Linked DNA regions of Homo sapiens. The protein of the gene in region 1 purifies or fractionates together with the protein of each later gene. This does not show direct contact. Each region holds a gene or a part of one and is shown in the gene's direction. Other genes may lie near its edges.

Region 1 (3,736 bases):
GCAGGAGGGCAGCAGCCGTACCCCTCCCAGCAACTACAGAGAAGGCCTGGGCACTGAAATGGTGCCTACCTTCTGGAATGTCTGTGCCCCAGGTCCTTAGAATGTCTGCTTCCCGCCGTGGCCAGGACCACTATTCTCACTGAGGGAGGAGGATGTCCCAACTGCAGCCATGCTGCTTAGAGACAAGAAAGCAGCTGATGTCACCCACAAACGATGTTGTTGAAAAGTTTTGATGTGTAAGTAAATACCCACTTTCTGTACCTGCTGTGCCTTGTTGAGGCTATGTCATCTGCCACCTTTCCCTTGAGGATAAACAAGGGGTCCTGAAGACTTAAATTTAGCGGCCTGACGTTCCTTTGCACACAATCAATGCTCGCCAGAATGTTGTTGACACAGTAATGCCCAGCAGAGGCCTTTACTAGAGCATCCTTTGGACGGCGAAGGCCACGGCCTTTCAAGATGGAAAGCAGCAGCTTTTCCACTTCCCCAGAGACATTCTGGATGCATTTGCATTGAGTCTGAAAGGGGGCTTGAGGGACGTTTGTGACTTCTGGCGACTGCCTTTTGTGTGTGGAAGAGACTTGGAAAGGTCTCAGACTGAAATGTGACCAATTAACCAGCTTGTTTGATGATGGGGGAGGGGCTGAGTGTGCAATGGGCCCAGGTCTGGAGGGGCCACGTAAAATCGTTCTGAGTCGTGAGCAGTGTCCACCTGAAGGGTCTTCCTTTCAAAAGAGGCTGCGGCCAGAGACTGTGGCTCATGCCTGTAATCCCAGCACTTTGGAGGCTGAGGCAGGTGGATCACCCGAGGTCAGGAGTTTGAGACCAGCCTGGCCAACGTGGTGAAAGTTTGTCTTTACTAAAAATACAAAAGGTAGCCGGGGGTGGTGGTGGATGCCTATAATCCCAGCTACTCGGGAGGCTGAGACAGGAGAATGGCTTGAACCTGGGAGGCGGAAGTTACAGTGAGCCGAGATCTCACCACTGCACTCCAGCCTGGGCAACAAGAGTAAAAATCTGTCTCAAAAAGAAAAAAATGTACTTAGGAGGGGTTAATTGTGGCGTGTTTATGGAATTCTTTCCTTATTCTCCTTTTAGTGGGGCAAAGAGAAGTAAGATTCTTAAACTCAAAAATATAGGATAAAGAAACTTACAGAGATTTTGCTTTTTAAAGCATTGATCTTACGCTGTCTAGGTTTTAATTTTGTTTTGCTTTGCTTTTCTACACAGTTTTTAAAGAAATATTTCAAGAAATGTTGGTTATTTATTAAACAGGGATATTTGTACCTATGTGGCAAAGAGGCATATTTGGAATATTCTCTGGCAAACTAGATACTTACTTCCCTATCGCTGCAGTATTTAGGAATTACTTCTTCTCCTTGGTTGTGTTGTTTAGAGTTGGATTTTCTGTAGAAATCTTTCTAGAGCTCTGATGTGACTCCAGACACTTTATCGTTTTTCTTTTTTTTGAGACGGAGTTTTGCTCTTGTTGCCCAGGCTAGAGTGCAGTGGTACAATCTTGGCTCACTGCAACCTTTGCCTCCCAGGTTGAAGTGATTCTCATGCCTCAGCCTCTTGAGTAGCTGGGATTAGAGGCAGGTGCCACCATGCCTAGCTAATTTTTGTATTTTTAGTTAGAGACAGGGTTTCACCATGTTGGCCAGGCTAGTCTCGAACTTCTGACCTCAGGTGATCCCCCTGCCTTGGCCTCCCAAAGTTCTGGGATTACAGGGGTGAACCACTGTGCCTGGCCCATTTTTCTTTATAAATATTGTAACATAATGTTTTATAGACAAACATTCAAGGGTACTTTGGCTTTAAGAACTTCAGGATTTCTGGTGCTAGAAAAGCGCTTGAAGCAGTATCACCAAGATTTTAGATATTAAAAAGTCTGGTGTACCAGACATTGAGTCATAATCATCTATATTCAAGGGATACTTTCATTGATAACTTTGTTATTATGCTGCCCTTCACAGAAGACAACGTCCGGGGCAGGATCACATGCTCCCTAGCAGATGCTGATCAGTGATGTCATAGAAATTACATGAATGCATTGTCTTTAAATAGCAGTTTAACCATGTTATAATGTAGGCTTTTTGTCTTGTTCCGGGCTGGTATTTGGGTGCCCTGATTGAATTACTTGGATTTAAACAGCAAACTGTGGGCTCTCGACTTACATAGTAAGGGCCTTTACTGTTTCTTTGTAGGAAATGGGTTTCTCGCCTTTGAAACATTTTTTCCCCTTTTGTAGTGACAGTGCCACTAAATAGTTCAGCTTTTGTCAGTCCCCCAGGAAAGTGCTATCCTATGGCCTAACTAGCCAAGCCTTTTTTCTTTCATTTAAAAGAAATTAGCTTTAATTTTTACCTTTAATTACTTATTCAAATAAGACAGAAATATATTTTCCTTGCAATAATTAAAACATTGCATATAGGCCATAAATTTCCTTATTTTCTCTGAACGATCCTGATTCCAGTCATCTTGTTGAATACCCTAGTTCTAATAATTGACTCTTGCTTTTCTAGAGAAATATTTCCAAATGATGCTAGTTTTGTCTCTTCCTTTCAAAGTTGTATACCACTTCTTTTTCTTGTCATTTTGCATTGCCTGGGACCTCCAGAATAATGTTTCATGAAGTAGCATGTATCCATATCTGGTTCTTGACTTTTTCATCATAATAATTGTTTTCTATGGGTTACTTATCAGTTTAAGAATGCTTAATTCCTAGATGAACTAAGAGTGTTTATTACATGTTGAGATTTATGGTATGCTTTTTCTTCCTCAAGATAATGCATTTTTTGTATTATCTGTTAATGTGATAGGTTATCCATTTGTGTATTTTCAATCATTGAACAACCCTTGATTTTTTTGGATAAACTCTATTTGGTCATTATGCATCATTCTATAAACCCTGCTGAATTTTTCATTTGCCAACATCTTATTTCAGATTCTTTTAATCTGTGTCCAACAATGAGATTTGTTTTCTTTTGCAATTTGTTTTGAATTTTTGGTATCAGAGCTATACTAACCTTATAATGGAAAATACATATTTCTCAAACTTTTACACTGATATATTCATAGTATTTTTTTATAATTTGAAAAATCTTGTCAGTATCTGTATTAAGGCCTCCATTTCAGTTCTGCTATTTCATATTGCCTTAGGTTGTCTATTTGTCTCTTTAATGAACCCGATTTTGATTTTGTCATTTTTAAAATAAACACATTTATGCTATAAACTTCCTTAATTACTACTTAGGCAACCTTCCCAGTATTGGTATGTTTCTTTTTTCCCAAGAATTCTTTAGGAGTATATTTAACTTCTGGGAGGAGTACTGATTTTTCATTCACTTATATATGATCAATTTCTGCAGATGTTTCCTGTGTCTTTGGTATGTTGTTAACTGTACAACTAAAATTTGCTTTCAGCCTTATCTATGCTCTTTGATTCAAGGAGGCTGAGTTTCCTGCTAGGATCCCATCTTGTAGTTCAGTGTGTAAATAACCAAAACATTTCCTCCCTTGAGAACCCCCCAGGCCCTGCCCCAAGTCATTTCATGAACTGAGGAAAACTTCAAATACAATGAACATTTTATTTTAAAAAACCTAACTAACTCACCACTTGGTAAAAGGTCACCAAATGTTTATGAGAGAGGAAATAAGAATAAAAAAGACATTTAGTTCTCAGGAACAAGTGTTAGAGAACTGATACACAACCCTCCAGAAATGAGGCAGAGAT
Region 2 (3,479 bases), on another chromosome or scaffold:
CTACTTGAGAGGCTGAGGCAGGATAATCGCTTGAACCTGAAAGGTGGAGATTGTGGTGAGCCGAGATTGTGCCATTGCACTCCAGCCTGGGCAATAAGAGCTAAAGTCTGTCTCAAAAAAAAAAAAAAAAAAAAGAATAAGGGTGATAGGGCCAGGTGTGATGACTCATGCCTGTAATCCCAGCATTTGGGAGGCCAAGGTGGGCAGATTACCTGAGGTCAGGAGTTTGAGACCAGCCTGGCCAACATGGTGAAACCCCGTCTCTACAAAAAATACAAAAATTTCCTGGGCATGGTGGCGTGTGCCTGTAATCCCAGGTACTCGGAAGGCTGAGGCAGGAGAGTCACTTGAACCCAGGAGGCGGGGGTTGCAGTGAGCCGAGATCGCGCCACTGCACTCCAGCCTGGGAGACGAGGGAAACTCCATCTCAAAAAAGAAAAAAAAAAGAAGAAGGGTGATAGGGCTGGGTGCAGTGGCTCACTCCTGTAGTTCCAGCACTTTGGGAGGCGGGGGCAGACGGATCACTTGAGGTCAGGAATTCAAGACCAGCCCGGGCAACATGGTGAAACCCCGCCTCTACTAATAATACAAAAATTAGCTGGGCATGGTGGCATGCGCCTGTAATCCCAGCTACTCGGGAGGCAGAGTGGGGAGAATCGCTTGAACTCGGGAGGCGGAGGTGTAGTGAGCTGAGATTGTGCCACTGCACTGCAGCCTGGGCGACAGAGTGAAACTGTGTCTCGAGAAAAAAAAAGAGTAAGGGTGTTAGGCCCTGTCCTGTCAGCAGTTTCTGTCTGTGTTGTGAGGCTCAGGAGGGTATAAGTTATTTGCACCTGAGAGGATTCCCCAGGCAGGAGGCAAGGCATGTAGTTTGAAAAAGTCTATTCCATATAAATGTCTCTGTTGTTTTTGTGATAAAATCTGCAAGAAGTGTGGCTTGATCAAATCTTTTTTCATGAGGATACACAAGAGTACAAAAGCATTGTGAAGGGGAATGGACTAGAAAAGCATCAACCTAAATTATTCCTCCAAGTAGGACAAGTTTACAAATGCCCATGACTTCCATGCAGGCATCAGAGAAGGAAGCACGAGCTGCTTTCATGGAGGCTTAGTAGGAAAAAAGTCTTTTTTGAACCTGTAATTCCTGCTTTAATCTTCCACCTTTTTATGTGATCGTCAGCGATGGCTAACAATGGTCTCAGGATGTGTTGCTCCTCGGAGAGCAGAGCATGTCTCCAGTCTTCCTTTACTCACTCATGCATTCATTCATTTTTTTTGTTTTGTTTTGTTTGGGGACAGAGTCTGGCTCTGTCGCCCAGGCTGGAGTGCAATGGCATGATCTCAGCTCACTGTAACCTCCACCTCCTGGGTTCAAGTGATTCTTGTGCCTCAGGCTCCCGAGTAGCTGGGACAACAGGTGTGCGCCACCACACCTGGCTACTTTTTATATTTTTAGTAGAGACGGGGCTTCACCACAATGGCCAGGCTGGTCGAACTCTTGACCTCAGGTGACCCGCCCACCTTAGCCTCCCAAAGTGCTGGGATTACAGGCGTGAGCCACCGCGCCTGGCCACTCATGCATTCATTCTTGCATTCCAAGTGTGTTTGAGCTTCTCCTGGGAGCTGGGTCTCATGCCAGTCACTGTGCTGAGTGCTGAGGAGACATGATGAACAAGATGAGCATGGCTCCTACCTTCATGAAACTAACCATCTAGAGGGGAGAGAAAACATTATAAATGGGATGAATATGCAGAAGTGCAAGGTGCTGTGGGTATCTGGTCTGGGAGTATTGATCGGGGACAACTTCCCCTAAGAGGTGATGGTTAAGCTAAGAACTGAAGCACAGTAAGGTTTGTAAGGTGAAGGACAAGAAACAACTGACCACTTTCTTTTTTGTCACAGAATCTCGAATCCTGACCTTCTTAGAAACCTACCTTGCCTCGGGTCATCAGAAGCCATTGCCCACAGTCCCTGGGGGACTCAGTCCAGTTCAGAGAGAGCTGGAGGAAGTTGCTATTAAATTTGCTCGCCTGGTCAACTATAACAAGATGGTCTTCTGTCCCTACTACGATGCAATCCTGAGTAAGATCCTCGTCCGATCCTAACGTGTATGCACCCTACAGCAGCAGTATTACTCACTAGCCACAGAATACCTGTTCTGTACTCTAATGTTGCATTGGAAAATGGCTATATAGTACATGTCTATTTAACAGCACCGATTCCAAAGGGAAGAATATTGTGTATCACTGTTGAAAAGACTTGTTGAGAAATCCACTGAATTCTATTTTGAGAGATTGTATTTATGAGTGCAAGTTTACAAATCAAAGAAGCATTTTGTTCTCGAGTTTTACAGGTAACACTCAGCTGTTGTCTCCACTCCTCCCCCATCATGTCCTTCCAAGGAGGCTGGGACCTCTCTCTTCTGCAATCTGGGTAGTTCTTTCAGATGCCTCATGCTGAGCTGACGGCCATCCAAGCGCAAAAGAGACCAAGCCATGGCCTCACCTCCTGCCCTCCCTCAGACAGCCTTGTCCCTCACCCCTCCCTTCTGGTATTTTTGTTAGAAGGGCTATATAACGTCTTATTGCCATTTTCTCCCCCTATTTATTGCTTCCTCCCTGCCTGGCCTAGCCAGGGCTCCCAAGCCCTTTTTTCTAGAGGAGAGTTATTTGTCTCTCTCTCTTTTTTTTTTTACTTTCTTTTTTGTATTTAAACATTCTTTTAACCTTCCCCCAAAGATACAGTTATTGGACTTTAAAAAGCTTGTTCTTTTATACAAAATTACTCCTGCATCTGGTTGAGAGCAGTTATGACTTATGAGATCTAGTGAAAGGAAAGTCTTTGACTTTCAAGCCTTGAAAGTCAAGGAGGAAATGTATTGAAAAATAGTTTACTGTAATGTGAACGAAGAGAAATGTCTGGAATTCTTACTGAAAAATTGACCCTGAGACAATACACAGATGTGATGATTGAATTAAATTCTGGAATTAGATTTAACTGTTTTCAGATAAAATAGCTTGAGTTCACGAATCTCCTAGATGAGGAAGTCATAGGAAATCCCTGGTGTTTGAGCATTATTTTTCAAGGAACTTCAGTGACCAGAATTCCTGACATGTCCTCTGAGCGTGAGTGATTTGGGTCTCATAGACGATCTGTTCTTTTTTTTTTTTTTTTTTTTTTTTTAAAGTGTACACATGTATGTCTGCATTTTAGACAGGGATGTTATATTAGAAGCAGAGCCATGAAGTTGGAATGACCAACTGCCACAACAGCAAGGGGTAAGACTATATTACTGTATGAGTAATGCAGTAATATCGGCACCTGAAGCCTTCTGTACAGGAAGCTAAGAGAAACTTACAAGTTAGCCGGGCGTGGTGGCTCACGCCTATAATCCCAGCACTTTGGGAGGCCGAGGCAGGCAGATCACCTGAGGTCAGGAGTTTGAGACCAGCCTGGGCAACATGGTGAAACCCCATCTC
Region 3 (2,159 bases), on another chromosome or scaffold:
GCGCACTAGAAACATCAGTTAATGCAAGCCTGATCTAAACTGTGAATGTGGTAAGATCAAAATCCTGACCCCTCTGCGGAGCACTTGGTCTGCAGCTCAAGGTTGCTGTCCGTTTCTTTGTTGTTCCATTAGTTGTCCCAGGATGACAACCTTGTGCTTGGTGTGTGTCACCAGCCTTGTGCTTCTAACCCCCTCCCCTGGGTGTCCCGGGCACTTTGCAGTTTCTCAGGCCCCGGGCAGCAGTGTTGATAGGCTCAAAACTCCTGAGGCCTGGTAGGTTTTGTAGGTGGATTTTTTCCCCTCTTCTACTTGTTAACATTTCTTGGCTGGGCACAGTGGTTCATGCCTGTAATCCCAGCACTTTGGGAGACCAAGGTGGGCGGATCACTTGAGGTTAGGAGTTCGAGACCAGCCTGGCCAACATGGCGAAACCCTGTCTCTACCAAAAAATACAAACATTAGCAGGGCGTGGTGGTGTGCACCTGTAGTCCCAGCTACTTGGGAGGCAGAGGCTGCAGTGAGCCAAGATCACACCACTACACTCCAGCCTGGGTGACAGAGCAAGACTCTGTCTCAAACAAAAAAAAAAAAAAAAAATTCTTGCCTAGTCTTCTGGGATTTAAGGTCAAAATCAATGCAAATCTCTCTTCCTAATTTTACCCAAGAAGAATTTAATTATATATCATGTAACCTTTTAAGTGACTGCCTCTTCCTTCCTCACTGTTGTGTCCTTGTTGCAGAAGAGGTCAAGAAACTTTGTGCAACGCAGTTCAACAACATCTTCTTCTTGGATTGACGGATGACGGCTCACCGAGAGCATATCTAAAAAACACTCTGCAAACATTTGGTCACATGCAAGTTAGTGGTCATATGACGGACTGCATTCAGGACAAGGGTAAAGCAATACTTGCTTTGAAGAATCACATTTCGACTCGGTCTGCTGATCTGAGGTTTTTAGATTTTAAATATTTATGTGGAATTAATTAAAGGTAGTTGGCTATATCGCTATCATTTCATTCTTTTGACATTATGTGAATATTTTACTGGAAAATAAGACTAATAAATTGTTAAAAGTTTTTAAAATTCTGGTTTGGTGTTGAGTCTCTCTCCTGCTGCCTATTTATAGATTACACTGGCCACCAGCTCCGTGACCCAGGCTGGAATGCAATGGCTCACTGCAGCCTCAACCTCCTGAGCTCAAGCAATCCTCCCACCTCAGCCTCCCAAGAAGCTAGAACCACATGTACACACCACCACGGTCGGCTGATGTTTTAATTTTGCAGAGATGGGGGGGTCTCACTATGTTGCCCAGGCTGGTCTCGAACTCCCGTAATCCAGCCATGTAGGAAACCTGAGATGCAGTGGGCCAAGGGGTATGTTAAAACACTGTGACGAGTTCAGTGCTAAGAACTGTAATGCTCAGGAAATCTTACAGCACGTGCCATCCTAAGCCTGTGTGTGTGTCCTCGTGTCTCTCTACTTTTTCTTCTTCTTGCTGGTGATGGTCTTGCTGGATGGGGACACGGTCACATCCTCCTTGGGAGGGTCCAGTATGAGGTGAGAGGATGACACGTCTGCCGGCTCCTTGAGCACTGTGATGTCCACCTCATAGTCATGTCTCTTGGCCTCTTCCTCTCTCAAGATGAAGATGTTCAGCCTAAAAGCAAACATGAGAAGGTGGTAGCTTTTTTTATCCCCCTCCAAACTGCAAAACCAGTTTTAGGCTATTTATAGTATACAGCCCTTCATACCTGCATTTCAACAGCATGTGTAAACAAAACTGTAAGTTGCTACACTCTGCCTGAAATAACTGATGCCATGTCGACACAGTCCAAAATAAACTTCTCATCTATCTATGAAAAGAAAATTTTTTCTCGAGACAGACAGAGTTTCGCTCTTGTTGCCCAGGCTGGAGTGCAATGGTGCAATCTCGGCTCACTGTAACTTCCGCCTCCCGAGTTCAAGCGATTCTCCTGCCTCAGCCTCCTGAATAGCTGGGATTATAGGCTTCCGCTACCACGCCCGGCTAATATTTTGTATTTTTAGTAGAGATGGGTTTCACCAGGTTGGCCAGGCTGGTCTCAAACTCCTGACCTCAGGTGATCCACCCACCTCGGCCTCCCAAAGTTACGTGTGTGTGTGTGTGTGTGTGTGTATTA
Region 4 (3,500 bases), on another chromosome or scaffold:
AGTGCGCTCTAGCCTGGGCGACAGAGTGAGGCCCTGCCTTGAACAAAATGATGCAAAACAAAAAAACCACAGAACCTGATAAATAATTAATTATGAAGCATATAAGAGCCTTCACTTAGGTCCCAAAATAGAGCATAGCTAGCGCCCCCGTCTGTCTCTCCTTTTCCAGTTACACCTCATTCTCAATTTTATAAAGTAGCTATTGTCCTGAGTTTTATGACGCTACTCTGTTGCTTTTCTTCATAAATTTATTGCTTATATATGTAGATTTGATTTGCATCATCTATGGATTTTATATTTGCAAATTCATGTACTTACTGAAATTTATTTGTGACCCCAAAATCAATACTCAACGTCACTTCTGCAGTTGTTCAGACTTACCCATATGCAGAGTGGTGGAAAATTTGAGTGGCCCAACCCATATTATTCCCAAAGAGGGCAAACATGGCAGTGACCTACCTTCTTATTTCAGCTCTCATCCTGTACACAGATGTCCTTTTTGCAGTCTAATGCCATGTTTTTCACACTTTTATGCGTTTTGTTGGTGAGGTCACTTTTTAAAATGGCCCCATACTAGTGCTGTCTAGTGTTCTAAGCACAAGAAGGCTGTGATGTTCCTTAGGGAGGAAATATGTGTGTTAGATAAGCTTTGTTCAGACATGAATTATAGTGCCATTGGCTGTGAATTCAGTCTTAATGAATCAACAGTAAATATTAGATACAGCATCTTAACATACATGCACAAAACAAGGTTATGTATTGATTGGTTGACAAAAATGTCATCAGAGGCTCATAGGAACCTAGCCCTGTATTTCTCCTAGGAGCAATGCTCTGGTATTCCCTAATTCAGTGTTTGCAGTGACTTTAAAGAACATAACTACCACAAAATAGTAAGAATTGACTGAATATCTGAATGATATAGTTTGGTTTTGCCTGCTTTTGAGCCTAATAAAAATAGAATCGTAATATTTTTATGTTTTTTTCTTACTCCATACTAAAGATTTATCTGTGTGGCTGTAGCTGTTTGTTCATTTTTATTAATGTATAATATTCTATGGTATAACTATACCACAATTAACTGTTCTATTGTTGATGGACATCTAGTTTTTTTCCAGCTTTTGGACATTATGAACAATGCAGCTCTGAGTATTCTTATATATGTATCTTAGACATGCATGCCTGAACTTCTCTGTAGCATAGACCCAGAAGTGGTTGGCTCATAGTAGTAGATAATGACAAACTGTCTCCCTAGATTCTTGAGCCAATAATAGTGAAAGTTCCTGTTATTCCACAAGCCTGATGATGCTTGATACTGTCATCGGTATGGTTGGAACTTCAATTTCCTTTTGTCCTTTTATAGTCGGTCAAGTTCATAGTGAACTAGGGAGTCTGTTCATTTAGGCTATGGAAGCCTTCTAGTAATTTGTACTTTCAGTGAATAAGGAATTCCTCTTTGTCTTTCTGCGTGTGTGTGTGTGTGTGTGTACGCGCGTGTTCTCCTTAGGGAGATTGGAGTCTAGTAGGAAAAACTACTTACGAAGCAGCGCCTTTGTAATACTGTAATACGGCAAGCTTTGGTCTATGTCTAGTAACAAGAAGCTCTGAATTACTTTGAACTTCGGATGCTTTTTGTTTTTTTTTCTTTCCACTCCTATATAAAGCTTAAGAGATGTGATTGCTGTTTTTGGCAAAAAAGGGGAATCTTTTCATATTTTAAAATTTTTGCCAGGAAACATTACCTGGAGCCAGAATAAGTGGAGGTCTTTCCAACTTGTCCTTCTCCTTCCGAGGAATGGAAGCCATTCGAGAAGCAATGCATGGGGTTTTCCTTTACCATGCAATCAAGGTATGGTAGAAGAACTCTTAGCCCTGCGGAAACCAGTTTTTAGTTGGGGCAGGGGTTTTCAAAGTGTGGCATGCAGGCTAAGTCCGGCCTGCTGCCAGTTTCTGTAAATAAGATTTTATTGGGATAGAGCCACACCTATTCATTTGTATCTTGTCTGTGGCTGCTTTTATGCTGTAACTACAAAGTTGAGTAGCTGTGACAGAGGCTATGGCCTAAAATATTTCTCTCTGGCCCTTTACAGAGAAAAGTTTGCTGATCGCTGACTTAAGGTATCACTGTAAATTCTCATTTTTATTTGTATTGCCCTTAGTCTGGCATGGACATGGGGATAGTGAATGCTGGAAACCTCCCTGTGTATGATGATATCCATAAGGAACTTCTGCAGCTCTGTGAAGATCTCATCTGGAATAAAGACCCTGAGGCCACTGAGAAGCTCTTACGTTATGCCCAGGTAGAGAGACAAGTGTTCTAATAGATGGATTTTTCCTATCTTTGAATGTATTACTCACCTACAGTTAGTAGACCTTCATGGTGGAATAGAAGCAAATATCGAATCATATATTTGGATCACTGAAGATTTCTACAGAGAGTTGCAGAGATGGTGGTGTAGCTAGGGCAAGGAAGGGTAAACAGACCATGCCTAGGGTGCTTCCGTATTCTGAACTTAGGTTTCTTTAAATTTATTGTAAAATGTAAAATTAATTTTTCTTGTACCAAGTAACATATTAGTTCTAGAAAATTTACAAAATTCTGGTAAGCAAAGGAAGAAAATAAAAATCACTTGTAATCCTACCACCCAAAGTTAAACACTTGAGATTTTGTTATAACCTTTAAGTGATGGGAGTTTTTATTTCTTTTTGCAAAATGAATATGCATGCATAGGTACATATACATACATTTTTTACAAAAATAGAACTATACTCTAGATGCTTTTATGGTAATATTTTTTTCTTAGCAGTGTACTGGGAACATATTTCCATTTTACTTGATATTTTTCTACCTCATTATTTAAAATAGCTGTTCTGGATTTTCTTGTGTGGCTATGTTAGTGTTACATGGTCCCCACTGTTCCATGTTTTGGTTTGTATACCTGTTTATGTTAGGATCTGGTCCATCTGTGGCAAAGTTCTGCAGTTCAAGGCTTAGGTCTGTGCACATTTGATGTGTAAAAAATGAGTATAATTATAGCTAATTCAAACACCAGCTTGTTTCTCATTTATATGTTGGGCGCAGTCCTAGGCACATGAAGTATCTATCGTAGATGGTTCTTCTTAGAATTCAGTTTAAGGAAAGTTGAGATCTTTACCTCAAAAGAACTTGCATTTTAATCTGTTTAAGAGAATGATGGCAAAGGAAGATATTTTTCCCACAAAGCATGTTGAGAAAGTGGTAGGATGCTTTTGTGTCTCTTGCCAACTTTGTTAATGTTTTCCATGTTAGAATCTGAATTTAGCTCTGATAGAACTGCCAACTTTGCCTCTTCCACAGAAGAGTAATAAAATGCTCTGGAAGAAGGATAGGACACTATGAGATTAACCACATCCTTGTTTTATCAGCCTTACTGGTAGTAAGACTTAGATTTCTGAAATTGCTTATGGAAGCCTTAGGCTCAACAAAGCTGAAAGGAGTTCAGACACTGTGCCAACGCTCACAC
Region 5 (3,500 bases), on another chromosome or scaffold:
TCATTTTGTATTTTTAGTAGAAACAGGGTTTCATCATGTTGGCCAGGCTGGTCTTGAACTCCTGACTTCAAGTGATCCACCTGCCTTGGCCTCCCAAAGTGCTGGGATTACAGGTGTGATCCACCATGCCTGGCCTATTATCTTTTTGGTAAAGATAATATGGACATTGAAATATCTTTGTGCCATCTGATTGACAGTAATCAACAAAGGAAAGTTTGTTGTTTCCAATGAGTTAAAACTTACTTCAGCATACCCTTTTTTTTTTTTTTTTTTTTTTTTTGAGATGGAGTGTCTCTCTGTCGCTCAGGCTGGAGTGTGGAGTACAGTGGCACGATCTCAGCTCACTGCAGCCTCCATCTCCTGGGTTCAAGCAATTCCCCTGCCTCAGCCTCTCTAGTAGCTGGGATTGCAGGTGCCCACCACCAGAACCAGCTAATTTTTGTAGTTTTAGTAGAGATGAGGTTTTGCCATGTTGGCCAGGCTGCCCTTGAACTCCTGACTTCAGGTGATCCACCCAGCTCAGCCTCCCAAAGTGCTGGGATTACAGGCATGAGCCACCACGCCCAGCCGGCCTATTCTGATATGGTGTTTGCCAAATAGCAGCTGGCATCAAAAGCAACTGGTGTGTATGAAGTGGGAGTGTGTTCTGTTTCTAGATTCCTGATTCTCCTTCACCTCGTTGAATCAAGTCATGTCTGTTCTTGCTTTTAAGATTTCTTACCGGACCCTTGAACCTCAATGATCCAGATGCAAAATGCAGATTCCCCAAAATTTTTGTAAATACAGATGACACTTATGAAGAGCTCCATTTAATCGTTTATAAGGTAACAACTGTTTTCCTTCCAGCGTTAATGATTGTGCTGAAATGGATCTTTCTTGCATGTGTACACGAGTGCATGTGCAAACCTCTTAAATGTTTCTTGGAAAAGATATTGGAAGTTCTGATTATGGTAAAACTCAAAATGGGTGTTCTTCCAGCGTAATAAGTTTATTTTCAGCTCCTTTTAAACAGTTCTGTTATTAGTGAAAGAGGAACTGTTTAAGATTGTGATTTATAAACGTGTGAAGTCTCACGTGCTCTCAAACCAAAGGCTGTCAGAGGTTGGTGCTGCCTGTTCTCGAAATGGCTCTGGATGGGGGCCGTAGCCACGTGTCTGTGCATATGCTGCTTTTGCTCTGATTTTAAAGCTGTAGGCTTGCTAATTCCATAAGGATCGTATTTTGTTTCTGTCAGGACATGGTCTTGTAAGGATATGTACTCAGGTTGTGTTTCTAATTAAAGGCAGTTTTTGATTCAAGAAAGAAGACGGAGCATGTGCACGTGTTTATCCTCTTTCCTGCCTGAGGCTGTGGAGAAGTTTTCATTTATAAAGGCTCAGAAATGATGCCGTGGGGGAACAGGAAGGAGCGGGATGTGTCAGGATGAGGGAGTCCTGTCCCTCTCTGGAAGGTAGACGGGACTTGTAAACCATGCCTGATAGAGGGCGGTGCCGGAGCAGGCCTGGAATATGAGTGGCAACCCTGTGCTAAGGCAAGGACCCACAGCCCTGTGGAAGCCCAGAGAGGCTCCTGACTTGGAGGAGGTCACCTGAGGAGTCAGAGTGGGGCCTGGGCCTGGAAAGGTGGGGAAGGGAAGTGAAGTGTGGCAGAGAGGCCAGTCAGCCTCCCCTTCCCCCATCCTTGCACAGACAGGCCCACGGCTGAGCATCCATCCCTGGGTGACAATCGAGGGTCTGTTTAAAGAAAGGAAACAGTCTGAAGAGACCCAGAGTGGCTAACGTGGATGTCTGCCCCTGAGAATGAGGCCCTGCTCATTCTGGCATTTCTTTCTTCCAGACAGAACTGAGACCTTCATCCTACACTCAGAGTGAAGCCTCCATCTCTGGTCAGCCTTCTGGTTCCCTCATTGTTAAATATGGCTGCAAAAACAAAACTAGAGGTCTCGAAAGAAACATGATTCCGAGGACAGACGAGAACTTTAAAAATTAGTATCCACTAATTAGAAGAGTTGTATCTATTAATATAAAATTGAAATGGGCCAGGTGCAGTCCCAGCACTTTGGGAGGCCAAGGTGGGAGGATCACTTGAGGCCAGGAGTTGGAGGCCAGCCTGGGCAACATAGTAAGACCCTGTGTCGACAGGAAAATGTTTAAAAATTAGCCAGGCATGGCAGTGCTCATGTGTAGTCCCAGCTACTCAGGAGGCTGAGGCAGGAGAACCGCTTGAGCCCAAGAGTTGGAGGATGTAATGAGCTATGATCACACCACTGCATTCTAGCCTGGGTGACAGAGTGAAACCCTCTCAAAAATAATGAAACTGGTATCAACAGTTTCATATCCAGCACCAGACATTATGTGACAGTGGAAGAGAGACTTTCAAAGTTCTGAGAGAAAATGAATTTGAGCATAGAGTTCTTTGCCATGCCAAGCTGTCAACCACAGATAAGACAAAAGAAAGACATTAGCCGGGGCATGGTGGCTCACGCCTATAATCCCAGCACTTTGGGAGGCCAAGGTGGGCGGATCACCTGAGGTCTGGAGTTCGAGACCAGCCTGGCCAACATGGGGAAACCCTGTCTCTACTAAAAATACAAAAAATCAGCCAGGTGAGGTGGCGCACGCCTCTAATCCCAGCTACTCCGGAGGCTGAGGCAGGAGAATCACTTGTACCCGCGAGGCGGAGGTTGCAGTGAGCTGAGCTTACGCCACTGTGCTCCAGTCTGGGCAACAGAGCAAGACTCTGTCTCAGAAAGAAAAAAAAAAACACGTTCAACATGAAAAGCCTCAAAAAGTTTACCGTCATGCACCCTTCCTGAGGGTGTTACACAGGGTCATCCGTCAGCAGAATAAGTGAGCACACCAAGAAGGAACACTTGGGAATCCAGAACAGTAGTTCTCATGTGTGAGACGGTACAAGGAAATCTTGGGGTGATAAGGCTCTTCAGGTCTGCTGGCGGCACCCCACCTCCAGCAGCTCCGTGACAGCAGGAGGAGGGAGGGCTCTAGGGTTCAAGCCGCCAAGATAAAAAGATGTTTCATTCATCACATGGTGTGCTTGAGAGTCACTTAAAGTTGGGCTGTGACAGACTGGCAGGGAAGGGGAGATTGCAGGCAGAGCATACAGAAAGATGTGGTCTGAAAAAGCAAACCAAAATGTTGGAGGTGTAATTCAGAGCAGGAATTGGAGTAGGAAGAATGTCCGTTTGTGTATCGAGTGAAAGTTTGAGACCCCATCTCAAGAAAAAAATCATCCTCCTTTGAATGACCCAGGTAATGACTGAAATCTCCATAACCCTGGTGTGTAATATGCTGTCGGCTGCATTTCTATTTTTAGAGTCAATCTACAGACATATTGTGGGGTGTGATGATGGGGTTGTGGCTATGTTAAAGGGTCCTTACCTTTTTCTTAATGACTTTGAGATACAATGCACGTACCATACAACTCACCCTCCTACACTTAAAATGTACAGTTCAGTGATTTCTAGTTGCAAAGTTCATGAG
Region 6 (2,750 bases), on another chromosome or scaffold:
CTCAAAAAAAATAAAATAAAGATAAAATCATAAACACTCATAATTCAGTTATACCTTTTTTCAAGTAACTAAAGTTCAAACTTACTTAGGGGAACAGGCTTTCCTGGGTGCCACCTGCTTCTCAAGTCCTGTGCTTTCCACACCACAGAATAGTAAACTGGGTGCACTGAGTGCCTGGTTCCCCTCAGCCCTTAACCAGTGCTGGCTTGTCCGAGTTTAGAATCCCAGGGCTGACTTTGTTGGTGGAATGCTAGCTCCCATTCATTTCCCACCTGCACTGGACGTTTTCTGAATCTCCTTGAAGTCCGGGAGATCTTCATTCCAAAGCTCTTCACTTTTCTGCAGCATTGTGACCCCATCTGGCTGGGGAACTGGAAGTCCTGCTCAGAGAAAAGCAGGAGGGGACATGGAGTTCTGAAATTCACTTTCTGCTCCCATGTCTGGAAGTGACAGGTGAAATGAGAATGATAGTGCCTCTCAAGAAGGTCTAGTTCCCAGAAGAGAAAGTTTAATGACTCATTTTCCCCCTTTTACTCCTTTGAGGGTACAGGATAATGCCCTTATCTATTTTCATAATAATTATAATGATGATGATAATGAAAACTAACGTTTGCCAAGTGCTAATACTGTGTCAGGATCCTCATAACAGCCCAGGGAGGTAGAAACCATCACAATGTCCACTGTCCAGATGAGAAAATGGAGGCTAAGGGTATTTAAAGAGGTTGCCCAAGAACAACAAACCTTTTAAATGGCAGACTGGTGTGTATAATCTACGCAGGGTTCACATCTATGGAACACTTTATTTTAAATTCTTTTAATAATATTATTATTTTTCAGCTGAGTCTGGGTCTCACTCTGTCGCCCAGGCTGGAATGCAGTGGCATGATCACAGCTCACTGCGGCCTCCAACTCCTGGGCTCAAGTGATTCTCCTGCCCCAGCCTCCCGAGTAGCTGGGACTACAGGCTTGCGCCACCATGCCCGGCTTATAGGGCACTTTAGATGGAAACAAATGACTGGATCTTTAACTCCTACCTTTCTCTCCTCTCTTCCTGTAATGTTGTTACTGAAGGCAGGAAGGGAGACTCCTTGGCTAAAGAGCAGAGCAAGAGCCTCAAAGTGGTCTTTGTGAGCCACCCTGGACTACTGGTTCAGTAGAGGGTTGAGTCAAGCAATATTTGAGGACGGGATATAAACAGTATTTCTTAAAGTTGTCACCAATTTTTCCCCCGATGAGGCCATTCCAGACCCAAATTAGTCATAACAGAGCCAGGACAATAATCACATCTCCTGATTCTGAGCCTGAATGCTTCCCACAGGACTGCGTCGCTCCCACTGCTCTGAGGTCCATTGTGGGGGAGAGTTGCCACTGGGATTCCACCTCAAGGCCTGGGGACCAAGCCTCCAGGATTCCTCTTGAGACTCCTCCACTATTTCATTACCATCCCGCCACATCTTCTAGTGCTATGCCCTGGTTCCCTTTGGAATCCTCTCAATCCCAAAGAAGGCCTCCTACCACCTCTAAGGCATCAAAGGTGTTAGAAAGTGCCCCAAGACTCAACAGGGCATCCATCTCATCATAGAAGACACTGGTGCCTGGTGTGTAGGTGCTCCTGGCTTTGCAGTAGTCGGTCAGGAGGTTTTTGAACCGATAGCAACATTGCTCCAGGGTCCACAGGAAGCCATGTTCTCACAGCTGCTCAGCCATAATCCGGTACACCTGGTGGTTTCGATGGCAGGTGCGGAGTTTTTCGTGGATCCAGGCCTCTGAGAATTCCCAGAAAAATCTTGGTTTCTTTGTATCCCCAGTGCACTCCTGCCACCTTCTCATCCTCCAGGGCCTGCCACTCCAGCTCGCTCCAGGTCTTGGCTTTTCTCCAGATTAGCACCTGGCCAGACTTGACTCTCACCCCAGCCACTGAGCAGTCTTTCACACTCTCTTTTTCTCCAGAATTTGAAGATCTAGATGCTGTGGGTTTTCATCCTACTCCACGTGGGAGTTCACTTTGGGCCTATGGATTGGAAAATCTGTTTGCAGGCAGACAAAAGGGAGATGTAATGGTTTGGTAAATCTAATCCCAACCATTTTATATGCCAGGGAGAGGAGATAGTAATTTTTTTTTTTTAATTCTGGGGGGATTCTTGGGAAAGCTCAGTGAAAAGAACAACTAGAAAAAAAAATTCAGGCCCAAATGCATAACTATATATCCACGTTCATCTATCTTAAATAAAATTCAGACACATACCTAAACTGACCATCTCCCTAAAATGAGCTTTCCTTTCTGGGTCAAGAAATTCATCCTTGGTGAAACTGACTATGGTATTGGATTTCCTTTGAGTAAGATTTAAGGAAGAAATAGATTTGAAATATTCAACCCAGGGGGAAAGGGTGGGAGCAGGGGGGTGAGGGATAAAAGACTACACACTGGGTACAGACTGAGGGGATAAAAGACTGCACACTGGGGCCCCGTGGTGGCTCAGGCCTGTAATCCCAGCACTTTGGGAGGCCGAGGCAGGCAGATTACTTAAGGTCAGGAGTTCAAGACCAGCCTGGCCAACATGGTGAAACCCCATCTCTGCCAAAAAAAAAAAAAAAAAATACAAAAATTAGCTGGGCGTGGTGGCACATCTCTGTAATCCCAGCGACTCAGGAGGCTGAGGCAGGAGAATCACTTGAACCCGGGAGGCAGATGTTGCAGTGAGTCAAGATCATACCACTCCACTCCAGCCTGGGTGATAGAATGAGACTCA
Region 7 (3,500 bases), on another chromosome or scaffold:
TGTGATATTGAGGCATTCATACAGAGCTGCAGTTAGACGGGGTTACGGGGGCTAAAAGCAGAAAAAAAATTCCATTTCATCGGGATGGAACTGAAGGATTTTATTCTATAAAGCGGCCCTGGTTGAATCTGGCAATTCTTTTTGCCAAGATCCCTAGCAGAAGATTTAGCCATGTCCTTCCCCTCACTTGTGTGAGTGGCCCCTTCTGAATCTCTCCAGCAGCCAGAGGCACGTGAGAAGCAGAAAGAGCTGGTAAATAAAGCCTTGGGCAAGCGACTTCTTAGATCAGAACTCACCAAATGGAAGCCTAGCAGCTGCTCCATAAACCTAGCCCCATTCTTCATATCAATTTTGTATAAATATATAGAAACACACACACAGCCTCAGACTTACAAACTGATTATACTCTAAAAGTTTGTATGTCAGTTAGCTAAAACTTCAGAATACATTTCTCCCTATAAAGAGTTATAAATGATGGTTTAGTTCTCAGGCAGCTACAAATGCCTATTTATTCCCTAATGTACCTGAACACTAGTACCATAGAACTGAACCACCATCTGTATCAGCGCATGGGGAGTGTGCATTCTGAGGTCTAACCCGGGGTGCCAGGAACACACACATCCTCCATCCCAGCATAGAGAATGGGGACTCCCTGAGTAATGGGAGTTCTTTCATGGCCTCTGCTTGGGGTGGGGGAGTCAGCAGCACCCATTTGTACATATAGGTCATTCATACATCACATTTTAAATTGGGGACTGTGTGTGCTGGTGTGTGTGTGAGTTCTACGTTTCTACCATATGTGATCAGTTTAATAGTAACTTTATTTATTTAAAAAAAAGAAACACAATTAGTTACTGTTAAACTGATAAAGGGTGTTTATTTTTACTTTTAGAATTGGTCCTATGAAGAAGTAGAAAGTGAGTCATGCACTAGACAGTGGGCCTAGCTCATCAGTGGCTAAAGTTGAAAAGGGGTTGGTTTCCTGTATATATATGTATGTATATACACACGTACATACATTCATATATATACATATATACATAATGTGCTTAACCACTGCCTTTTAAAACTTTAAATTAAATAAAACATTGGGGTTGATTCAATTTGGCCATCTGTGTGTGTTTCTTTATAGATACATGGGCTAAACAATACTATTTCACAGTTTATGCTTTTTTAAAGTGCTTTTACATCCATGGTCCCACTTCTAATAGCCTTTTTAAGGACAGGTAGAGTACATGGAGGGTTACTGAAAAGGTCATTTATCCAGAAGTTACCTCTCTGGCAAAGCAAAAAAATCAGGAATTACGTCTTAAAGGCCTTTCAGCTGCCAGAGGAGATGTCACAAAGTTTCTTGCAACTTACTTATGGGAGAGATCTTCAAGAATATCACTCTTAGACTCTGAACTGAAATTTGCATACGCTTCCAACATGTTTTATTAGCTGGCTTTGAAGCTCACAAAAGAATGGCAAAGAAAGAGGCTGCTAGATTGAAGGCAGGCATACTGAAAGAAGAAAAAGGCCAACTGAAAACTAGATAGTGAGATGAGAAGAATAAAACTTCAAGACATAGCAAATCTGGGACTGTCTACTTACCAAAGGATACTCTAGTTGACCCAGAAAATGTGTGTACAACAGTATGGCCCGTAGACTACTTCCTATAATGGTGACCCTGAGTTTTTTTAAAAGAAGAAATTAAATCCAGAACGCTTTATAAAAGGGTAGGAAGAAGACAATAGATGTTAGAATTTCATCCAAAATGTTTGAGGGAGAGGTGAGTGACCCAGGTTTTAACCAACAGCAAAAGAAATGGGCAATTCATAATTTTAGATTAAGTGAAAAGTTTAGAAAAAATTTAAGTATTTTTGTTATTCTACAAATGCATTTTTAAAGTATTTTTATAATTTCTATAATCAAATAGCTTTGGCATGCATGTCAGCTTACCTAAATGAAGATGTGTTTAATGAAATGCCATCTTACCAGCTTTCTTTATGCAGAGTAAGTGTTTGAACAGTCCTGTTTCAGTAGCTGTGCTCTTCTGCTTTCAGTGAGTTCTGTTTCATTTTGCATTTCTCTGCACTGGGCACTAAGCTTTGTTTTTGAAAAGAGAGTTTGCGGGGAAGAAGATGAGAGTGTCTTCATCTGGCACACAGAAAGAGAACTAATATCTGTTAAGTGCTTACTACATGCTGGGCTTTTGATGTATGTTATCTCATGTAACCTCACCTTATCGCATATGAAAGATCCTCTCCAGAAAGCTTATGAAAGTTACCCCACGTCACAGCAAGGAAGAGTCCAACTCTGGTGGCCTGACTCCCAGCACCACTCCTTCCTTTTCCCCACAGCACACCTGGGCCCACACTGTGCCTCCTTAGGGCTCTGAAATGCTGGGAACAGAGTGGTGTGAGGAGGGTGGTCATTCTCAGGCCATTTTAAGCAATAACTATTTCAACAGAACTAGTTTAAAGAGGTTTTTAAGCAGGGAAGTGACCTGAAGTGGAAGTATGAGTGGGAAACTTGCATGGTCAGCACTGGATTTCCAATGAAGACCTGGAATCCGTTAGGATAGGCCAGGGACCAAGGCTGCAGGCTGGCCTCTCTGCCCACAACTCTCCTGACCTTGGAAGCAGGGTACGGAGGCGTGTGTCCTAAAATAAAGCATTTGAGCTGCTGCTACAGAGGAACAATCACCAGATATTGTGACCCTTTCAGATGCCCAGTAGTCCTGGGAGGCAGGCAGGGCAGGTGTTATTATCCCTTCTTTATAAATGAGGACACAGAATGAGGCAGTACAAGTGACTCTAAACACCCCCTTAGTGCCACATCAGTCTCGCCACCTCCCAGGACTAGGTGTCACCTGTATTGACCTCTTCCCCTCTGATTATAAAAGTAATATATGTTCATTGTGGAAAGTTTGGAAAATGCAGAAAATAAAATTAATAATTTACCCCAAATCCCACCATCCTGAGATCATCACTGTTAATGTTTTAGTGTATTTCCTTCCTGTATTTTTTCTATGCATATATAATTTATTTTACTACAAGATTGGGATCATGCTGTATTTACAGATTTGTATCCTGCTTTCTTTAACATATTGTGAGCATTTTCCCATGTCAATAAATATTCTTCAAAAAGTAATGGCTATATGATATTCCATTATGTGAATTGTGGCAGACACTGCTAGTTTCCTTCCCAATATTCTTTCTAACAGAAGACATCATGACCACCACGCCCATAAAAAAAAAAAAAAATTTAAAAAGGTGGTGCCTGCTGCCTTTCTAGAAGGCAGCATGAGTTGTTAGTGCTGAAGAGCAGCAGGAACTAGGGGTGGCACCAGGAGGAGCAGGCTTGCTCTGCCACACAGCAACAGTCTCACAGAAGCCTCGGCAGCACAAGTCAGAACAGCTAGAGTAAGTGCCCCGATAACTATAGTTTTTGTCAAGAAGAGTTATTTGAAGGGAGCGAGGGAGCCAGGTGACTTAGAAAAGTGCATTAAAAAAAAA

The links.
Region 2: the proteins of VWA2 (region 1) and TCP11L1 purify together in Homo sapiens (affinity purification with mass spectrometry; one large-scale study listed by BioGRID and IntAct). This does not show direct contact.
Region 3: the proteins of VWA2 (region 1) and CCZ1 purify together in Homo sapiens (affinity purification with mass spectrometry, with the first as the bait; one large-scale study listed by BioGRID). This does not show direct contact.
Region 4: the proteins of VWA2 (region 1) and MTR purify together in Homo sapiens (affinity purification with mass spectrometry; one large-scale study listed by BioGRID and IntAct). This does not show direct contact.
Region 5: the proteins of VWA2 (region 1) and CCZ1B purify together in Homo sapiens (co-immunoprecipitation; one large-scale study listed by IntAct). This does not show direct contact.
Region 6: the proteins of VWA2 (region 1) and WDR73 purify together in Homo sapiens (affinity purification with mass spectrometry; one large-scale study listed by BioGRID and IntAct). This does not show direct contact.
Region 7: the proteins of VWA2 (region 1) and RIC8B purify together in Homo sapiens (affinity purification with mass spectrometry; one large-scale study listed by BioGRID and IntAct). This does not show direct contact.

Annotation. Positions count from the first base shown.
Region 1 is NC_000010.11:114,291,254-114,294,989, forward strand, and holds the end of VWA2 (von Willebrand factor A domain-containing protein 2 precursor), read left to right. Parts: 3' UTR 1-3,236; downstream 3,237-3,736.
Region 2 is NC_000011.10:33,070,572-33,074,050, forward strand, and holds the end of TCP11L1 (T-complex protein 11-like protein 1), read left to right. Parts: intron 1-1,902; coding exon 1,903-2,105; 3' UTR 2,106-2,979; downstream 2,980-3,479.
Region 3 is NC_000007.14:5,924,892-5,927,050, forward strand, and holds the end of CCZ1 (vacuolar fusion protein CCZ1 homolog), read left to right. Parts: intron 1-740; coding exon 741-796; 3' UTR 797-1,476; coding exon of another isoform or gene 1,477-1,657; 3' UTR 1,658-1,659; downstream 1,660-2,159. Other genes in the region: RSPH10B (radial spoke head 10 homolog B), read right to left, coding at 1,477-1,657. UniProt on the Homo sapiens protein: Acts in concert with MON1A, as a guanine exchange factor (GEF) for RAB7, promotes the exchange of GDP to GTP, converting it from an inactive GDP-bound form into an active GTP-bound form.
Region 4 is NC_000001.11:236,850,792-236,854,291, forward strand, and holds part of MTR (methionine synthase), read left to right. Parts: intron 1-1,729; coding exon 1,730-1,846; intron 1,847-2,156; coding exon 2,157-2,297; intron 2,298-3,500. UniProt on the Homo sapiens protein: Catalyzes the transfer of a methyl group from methylcob(III)alamin (MeCbl) to homocysteine, yielding enzyme-bound cob(I)alamin and methionine in the cytosol. MeCbl is an active form of cobalamin (vitamin B12) used as a cofactor for methionine biosynthesis.
Region 5 is NC_000007.14:6,809,276-6,812,775, reverse strand, and holds part of CCZ1B (vacuolar fusion protein CCZ1 homolog B), read left to right. Parts: intron 1-712; coding exon 713-824; intron 825-3,500.
Region 6 is NC_000015.10:84,638,785-84,641,534, reverse strand, and holds the end of WDR73 (integrator complex assembly factor WDR73), read left to right. Parts: 3' UTR 1-2,250; downstream 2,251-2,750. UniProt on the Homo sapiens protein: Component of a multiprotein complex required for the assembly of the RNA endonuclease module of the integrator complex. Associates with INTS9 and INTS11 in the cytoplasm, stabilizing the INTS9-INTS11 heterodimer and blocking the active site of INTS11.
Region 7 is NC_000012.12:106,886,182-106,889,681, forward strand, and holds the end of RIC8B (chaperone Ric-8B), read left to right. Parts: 3' UTR 1-3,135; downstream 3,136-3,500.